Linked DNA regions of Homo sapiens. The protein of the gene in region 1 interacts with the protein of each later gene in a pairwise test. Each region holds a gene or a part of one and is shown in the gene's direction. Other genes may lie near its edges.

Evidence for each region.
Region 2: the proteins of NDE1 (region 1) and TTC1 interact in a two-hybrid assay, tested with the Homo sapiens proteins (one large-scale study listed by BioGRID).

Annotation. Positions count from the first base shown.
Region 1 is NC_000016.10:15,653,243-15,657,063, forward strand, and holds part of NDE1 (nuclear distribution protein nudE homolog 1), read left to right. Parts: intron 1-3,821. UniProt on the Homo sapiens protein: Required for centrosome duplication and formation and function of the mitotic spindle. Essential for the development of the cerebral cortex.
Region 2 is NC_000005.10:160,050,492-160,054,312, forward strand, and holds part of TTC1 (tetratricopeptide repeat protein 1), read left to right. Parts: intron 1-637; coding exon 638-692; intron 693-3,821.

The DNA of each region.
Region 1 (3,821 bases):
GTTTTCCACATTCGTGAATGATGGTGTGCATCTTTGAACATGGGTCCTTGCCTGCCTAAGTATTTTTGTAGGTTGATCATTGTAAACTTGGAAAGCACAAAGACAGAAGCCAGGCTTGCTGACTCTTGACTGATGTTGCCCCAGTGATGTCACTCCTGCAAAATGCAAAGCCTGCGTCCTGGCTGTCGGAGCATGTGTGGACATTTGGCAGCTTCTTTCTCTTCCCTCCTGCTCTTCTGTTTGTTTTGATTGGGAAGGATATGGAGTGGGGATGGAGAAGGGTGTTGAGTAATTATCGATGGTTTCTGTATGTTTATTGCTCCTGACTAGCAGTGCTGGGTTTCTTCTCTCAGAGGAAAGCTGAAAGAGATTGCTTTGCTTTTTTCCAGAGTTTTAAAATCAGAGGTGTGTGTCTCGAGTGTATTTTCAGACTTTTTTGTTAGCTTTAATCATGTAAAACATGCAAAAAAAAAAAAAGCATGTGGAAACAATTTTTTTTTTTTGAGACGGGTTCTCGCTCTGTCACACAGGCTGGAGTGCTGTGGGGCGATCTCGGCTCACTGCAACCACCGCCTCCCATGCTCAAGTGATCCTCCCACCTCAGCCTCCTGAGTAGCTGGGACCACAGGTGTGCATCACCACACCTGGCTAATTTTTTTGTGTTTTTGGTAGAGATGGGGTTTCACCATGTTGCCCAGGCTGGTCTCTTATCTGCTGACCTCAGGTGATCTGCCTGCCTCACCCTCCCAAAGTGCTGGGATTACAGGCATGAGCCACCACACCCGGCCGGAAACAAATTTTTGAAGGAGGCATAGATCTCTGTTGTGCAAAATAGATACTTTTTGTACCACTGGGTCCTAGTTTGTCATTGTTCCTTGCATGATCCCATCAGATTTGTCTACAGAGCTGCTGGGGCATGATGGTGTGGTGGCGTATTAAGAACGCAGGTTAGTGGCACACAGATGAAATAAATGCATGTGGGGTGCATTTTTAAGATAGCAGGTGCAAAGTTGTATATACTGAGACCAGGCATTAACACTTGCCTATTACAGTGCCTTTTAAAACACTATGTGAGGGCCGGGTGCAATGGCTCACACCTGTAATCCCAGCACTTTGGGAGGCCTAGGTGGGCAGATCACCTGAGGTCAGGAGATCGAGACCAGCCTGGCCAACGTGGCGAAACCCCGTCTCTCCTAAAAATACAAAAAATTAGCCAGTCGTGGTGGCATGCACCTGTAATCCGAGGTACTAGGGACGCTGAGGTAGGAGAATCGCTTGAAGCTGCGAGGCAGAGGTTGCAGTGAGCTGAGATCACACCACTGCACTCCAGCCTGGGCAACAGAGAAAGAGATTCCGACTCAAAAAAAAAAAAAACAAAAAAAAAAAAAACAAAACTGGACCAAATGAAACAAGTGAATCTGATCTGCAGTCAGTCAGTTTGCAACCCCTGGGAAGCCTTGGACTTGAATGCAAAGATCCCTTGAACTTGGATCTAGTTTGCCTCTGCTGCTCACATGCACATTTAGAGATGGCCAAGGCATACGGTGTTTCTGCTTCCAAGAAACAGAGTGGTTGTCCTGTTTAGCCATCTCTTACAGTCACACAGCTTAAAGAAGATAATGTTTGCAAACAATTTTTGAAATGTCTAGCACACAGCAAACAGAAGGTCAAATTCAGTACTTAATGCTGATAAAATAAGAGAACCCTTGCAAGTCATGTTGCCTGCTTTCTGCCACAGAGAGTACTGCAATAGAACTTTCTGACGTTTTCATGTTGTTTATTTATTTATTTTTTGAGACAGAGTCTTGCTCTTGTGCCCAGGCTGGAGTGCAGTGGTACAATTTCTGCTCACTGCAACCTCTGCCTCTGGGTTCAAGCAATTCTTGGGCCTCAGCCACCCAAGTAGCTGGAATTATAGGTGCGCTCTACCACACCTGGCTAATTTTTGTGTTTCTAGTAGAGACAGGGTTTCACCATGTTGCCCAGGCTGGTCTTGAACCCCTGGGCTCAAGCAATCCACCCACCTCAGCCTCCCAAAGTGCTGGGACTACAGGCGTGCATCGTGACGCCCTGCTGATTTGTGTATTTTTAGTAGAGACGGGGTTCACCTTGTGCTGGTCTCAAACTCCTGGGCTCAAGCAATCTGCCCACCTCAGTCTGCCAAAGTGCTGGGATTACAGGCGTGAGCCATCGTGCCCGGCCTCTCTCTGACATTTTTGAATGGCAAAGGCAAAAATCTTATACTTTTAAGGATGTGGAGAAATAGGAACACTTTTACACTGTTGGTGGGACTGTAAACTAGTTCAACCATTGTAGAAGTCAGTGTGGTGATTCCTCAGGGATCTAGAACTGGAAATACCATTTGACCCAGCCATCGCATTACTGGGTATATACCCAAAGGACTATAAATCATGCTTCTATAAAGACACATGCACACGTATGTTTATTGCGGCATTATTCACAATAGCAAAGACTTGGAACCAACCCAAATGTCCAGCAATGATAGACTGGATTAAGAAAACGTGGCACATATACACCATGGAATACTATGCAGCCATAAAAAATGATGAGTTCATGTCCTTTGTAGGGACATGGATGAAATTGGAAATCATCATTCTCAGTAAACTATTGCAAGAACAAAAAACCAAACACCGCATATTCTCACTCATAGGTGGGAATTGAACAACGAGAACACATGGACACAGGAAGGGGAACATCACACTCTGGGGACTGTTGTGGGGTGGGGGGAGGGGGGAGGGATAGCATTGGGAGATATACCTAATGCTAGATGACGAGTTAGTGGGTGCAGCACACCAGCATGGCACATGTATACATATGTAACTAACCTGCACATTGTGCACATGTACCCTAAAACTTAAAGTATAATAATAATAAAGAAAAAGAAAAAAAAAGATTGCTGTTTTATGATAAAGTGAAGTGCAGCTGTTACTTCTTCCTTCTTTGCTTCCAGCATCTCTCTTCCCTAAGGATTGCTTTTAAAATGTAAGAGTTTTTGGTTGAAATGCTGTTCCTGTGGTTTTTGTCTCTTGGTTGGAGTGAAAGATTTTGCAGGCTGTGATACAAATCCAGTTCTCTGCTTATTTTCTCCTCAGTCCTTGAAATCCAAAACCAGATCCCTCCCATTGGCCCGTTGTAATTAGAACCTGCCCCACAATAGACGCACCTCCTAAAGCATCTCAGATTCATTTCTTTCCTGAGGATTAAGTTTTTAAACCTTCCTGGCCAAGATAACAGTGTTTTAAGAGGCTCTTTTCTTTTATTATTATTATTATTATTATTACTCTTTTCTTTTTTTGAGATGGAGTCTTGCTCTGTCACCCAGGCTGGAGTGCAGTGGCAGGATCTCTGCTCACTGGAACCTCCACCTCCCGGGTTCAAGAGTTTCTTCTGTTTCAGCCTCCTGAGTAGATGGGATTACAGGCATGTGCCACCATGCCCAGCTAATTTTTGTATTTTTAGCAGAGATGGGGTTTTACCATGTTGGCCAGGCTGGTCTCGAACTCCTGGCTTCAAGTGATCTACCCGCTGTGGCCTCCCAAAGTATCAGGATTACAGGCATGAGCCACAGCACCCTGCCAGGCTTGGGTGTTCAAGGAAGAGAAAGAAGGCAGTGTGGCTGGGACATAAGTGAATGAGAGGTGGTAGGGTAAGAAATGTGTAGAAAACTATGCAGGGGCCTGATCACATTGGATCTTGCACATCTTTTTCCAAACCTCAGGAGGAGTCATTCTGCTTTTGTTGTTACTGGTTCCTCACTTCCGCACTTTATTGTATGCTGACAACCTTCCATACCATGGGAC
Region 2 (3,821 bases), on another chromosome or scaffold:
CAAATATAGCACTGTAAACATCTGATATGTATCCTTTCAAACTTTTTTCTGTATATATTTATTTGTTAAATTTGTATTGATGCCCTCCTTTAGTGTAGACTTTCTATTAAGAACTGGAAACAGAGCCAAACAAAACTTTTTTTTTTTTTTTTTTTTGAGAAAGGGTCTCTGACTCCCAGGCTGGAGAGCAGTGGCACAGTCATGGCATACTGCACCCTCAACCTCCCAGATTCAAGCAACCCTCCCACCTCAGCCTCCTGAGTAGCTGCGACTACAGACACATGCCAACACACCCAGCTAATTTTTGTATTTCTTGTAGAGACAGCATTTTGCCATGTTGCCCAAGGTGGTCTCAAACTCCTGAGCTCAAGCGATCCTCCCAACTCGGCCTCCAAAAGTGCTGGGAATATGGGCAGGAGTCACTGCACCTGGCCCAAACAGAACTTTTGTCTTTATGTAGCGCACCACAAACATAAATACTTGGGGTTTTTTTTTTTTATTTAATAGGATCATAGACATACTTAACTTGATCTTATTTCCACATTAGGATTCTTGTGTTTCTCAAATTCAAAATAAAGGGAAAGGTTTTGGTTTTTTTTTTTTTTTTACCAACCCTTGTTTCTCCTCTTTTCCTCAGAGATTACCTAAGCAAATTGAAGAACGTAATGAAAGACTAAAAGAAGAGATGTTAGGTAAGCTTACTTCTTACTTTGCTTGATCATAAACAGCTAGGAACCTAGGGTGGGGACATAGCGAATACTAGAGGAGAACACATGAGTTAGAAAGTTTCGGACTCTACCACAAGGCTACTGACTTCTGAGTTATTTTGACCCCAGAAGGGGCAGCGTGGCTTAGAGAGGGTATTGGCTTTTTTTGGAAACCAGATTTCCTTTTTGATTTTCTTGGAAATTTTTCTTGCCTGCAAGAATTTAAGCATAATTCAGTTCCCTGGGATTATGCTTAAATGGGATTTAAAATCCTAGGATACCACCAACCTCGATTTCAGATAACAATTACATAAAAACAGTTTAGTTTCTTCATTGAATAATCATTCCTTGAGGTTCATTAGGATGCAGTCAAGATCATGAGAATTTTTATTTAGAAAATGGCACTCAAAGTCCCTTTAGTGTTTGAGAACACACGAGAGGGCAGGAATTAGGAGTAAAGAGAAATCAGACTGGGGGTAGGGGTAGGGCAAATGGATTCATTTGATCCATGTTTAGTTATTTCTCATATTTGCCAAAGCATTTTAGAGTTGGAACCTCCCACGAGCAATCTGCTTAAGTAAGAGGAGTGAGGGTTCCTGAACACAGACTTAAGTCTTTTCCACATGTAACCTGTCTGATATTTCGCTGGTGAAGATCTGCCATGTATTTTCCTTTTTGAGTATTTTCTAAATCTGTTGTTTGAATTACATTTTATAAACTGCAATCATGTGGCCCTAAAGGAAAAATCATTTAAAATAAATTGAGCCTGTCTGGCATTTATGGCCTTCAGACATCAGCATCCAGACAATGGGAACAAATTTCCCAAAGGATCATTCTGATAGCCAAGTTGATTGAGAGGAGGCCATTAACCTAGACTATCCAGAGACTTTGGCCCCTGCCGGGTAGACTCAGACTGTAAAGACGGCTGCTTCCGATTCAGGATAGCTCTGGAGCCTTCCCCAGATTTTCCAAAAAAGGGAGGGGGATGGGGGAGCTTTTCCCCTAATTTACATATTTAATTAAACTTGGCCAGGCACGGTGGCTCCTGTAATCCCAGCACTTTAGGAGGCCAAGGTAGGAGGATTGCTTGAGCCCAGGAGTTCAAGGCCAGCCTAGGCAACATGGTGAAACCCCATCTCCACAAAAAATTAGTCAGGCATGGTGGCATGTGCCTGCCCATAGTCCCAGCTACATGGGAGGATCACTTGAGCCCAAGGGTTAGAGGCTGCAGTGAGCTATGATGGTGCCACCACACTCCAGACTGGGCAACAGAGCATGACCCTGTCTCAAAGAAGAGGGAAAAGAGCATTTTCTCACCTATTTTTACTAACAATGATGCTCTATTTTAGCAAAAAAAAAAAAAAAAAAAAAAAAAACTGTTTGCATTTAGTATTTGAATTTCTTGCTAAAAAAGATGACCTTGTGAATGGCCATAGTGGATCTGGAAGGCATTGGTCTCTTAGTCCATTTTTTTAAAGCCAGTCCAGTAAAGGGACTGGTGCAAACTGAATCTTACTGCCTATTGTTAGTTCCAGATGGAATTAAAACTTCCATTTGTCCTTGTCTTTATAAATTCTAATGCACCAGAATTTTCTGTCTCCAAGGCTTTGGGTTTTTCTTATGTCATTCTCTTCATTTGAAAAAATTCAAATTGAATTCATTCCCTCGGTTGCTTCTAAAATGAATTCACCTGCCATTAGACTTAACCAACTTAAGTTGCTTTGTAAATAATATGTGTTGTTACACATGTGTAGTTTGAATGGCTAGATTCCTTTTTTCCCTTAATGAGTATAAAAATCATGAATAAGATACTGCTCTAGGTGTTACCCCACAATAGATAACCTAGAAGAGAGAAATCACTCTTTACATGGAATTTCAGCCCCCACAAGAGCTTTTCTGGTATTCCTTCCTCCTTGTTGCTGATGAGGTAACTTTGGTTCATGTTCTGTGAGATTCCCTAGAGGCTAGACATTCTGAATGCAAATTAATATCACTTAGAAGTTCTGAGCAAGCTTTTCACAGTGGACTGCATCATCTTTATGCTAGTTCCTGTTAAAATGATGGCTTCTATGGAGAATAAGCAGTTAAAAATTTTTTAAATTGGGTAGTGTGGGCTGGGTGTGGTGGCTCACACCTGTAATCCCAGCAATTTGGGAGGCTGAGCCCGAGTTCAAGACCAGCCTGGGCAACATGGCAAAATCCTGTCACTAAAAAAATTAGCCAGGTGTGCTGGTGTGCACCTGTAGTCCCAGCTACTTAGGAGGCTGCTGTGGGAGGATCACTTGAGCCCAGGAGATCGAGACTTCAGTGAGCCACAATGATGCCACTGCACTCAAGCCTGGGTGACAGAGTGAGACCTTGTCTTTAAAAAAAAAGAAAATTATAAAATCAGGTAGTGTGATGCCTATGCCTGTAGCTTTTGTTCTTTTTATTCAGGATCACTTTAGCTTTCAGAGTCTTTTGTGGTTCCATACAAATTTTAGGATTTTTCTATTTCTGTGAAGAATGTCATTGGTGTTTTGACAGGGATTACATTGAATCTGTGGATCACCTTGAGTAGTACAAAATGGGTTTTTATTTAGATGTGTTCAGTATTCTTTAACTTGTTTTTTCTTCCATCTCTGTAATTTCCTTTTCATTAGAAAGAAGAGCTATGTACTCCTTGAGGGAAAAAATCCTGATAGGAATTATTAGTGGGTAGAACAATTATTTGCTTTGCCCTTTCTAGCCCATCATTTATAATCTTTAGAACAAGAGACCCAGGGTGGCCATTAGTCCTAGTGGCACAGTCCTTGCTGATCACAGAAGATGATCGTGATAGCATCAAGACGATCACTTGAGGAAAGTGGTCAGCAGCTGGAGTGGGGGTTGGTTGTTTTTGTTTGTTTGTTTGTTTGTTTGGTCCTTTTCTCTGGGATAATTAGCCTCCCAGCCATAATAACCAAGGAATGTAAGGTTTAAAAGGACTTAAGGGTATGTGTGGTTGATAGTGTGATGAGATGGAAATAGAGACCCTGGACATAGCATCCCAGGAGGCTCAGAGCATTTTTGAGGAGCTAGTCATTGATGCTTTATTTGCTTTCTCTCTAATGGAATGATTTCACAGTTTTCTTA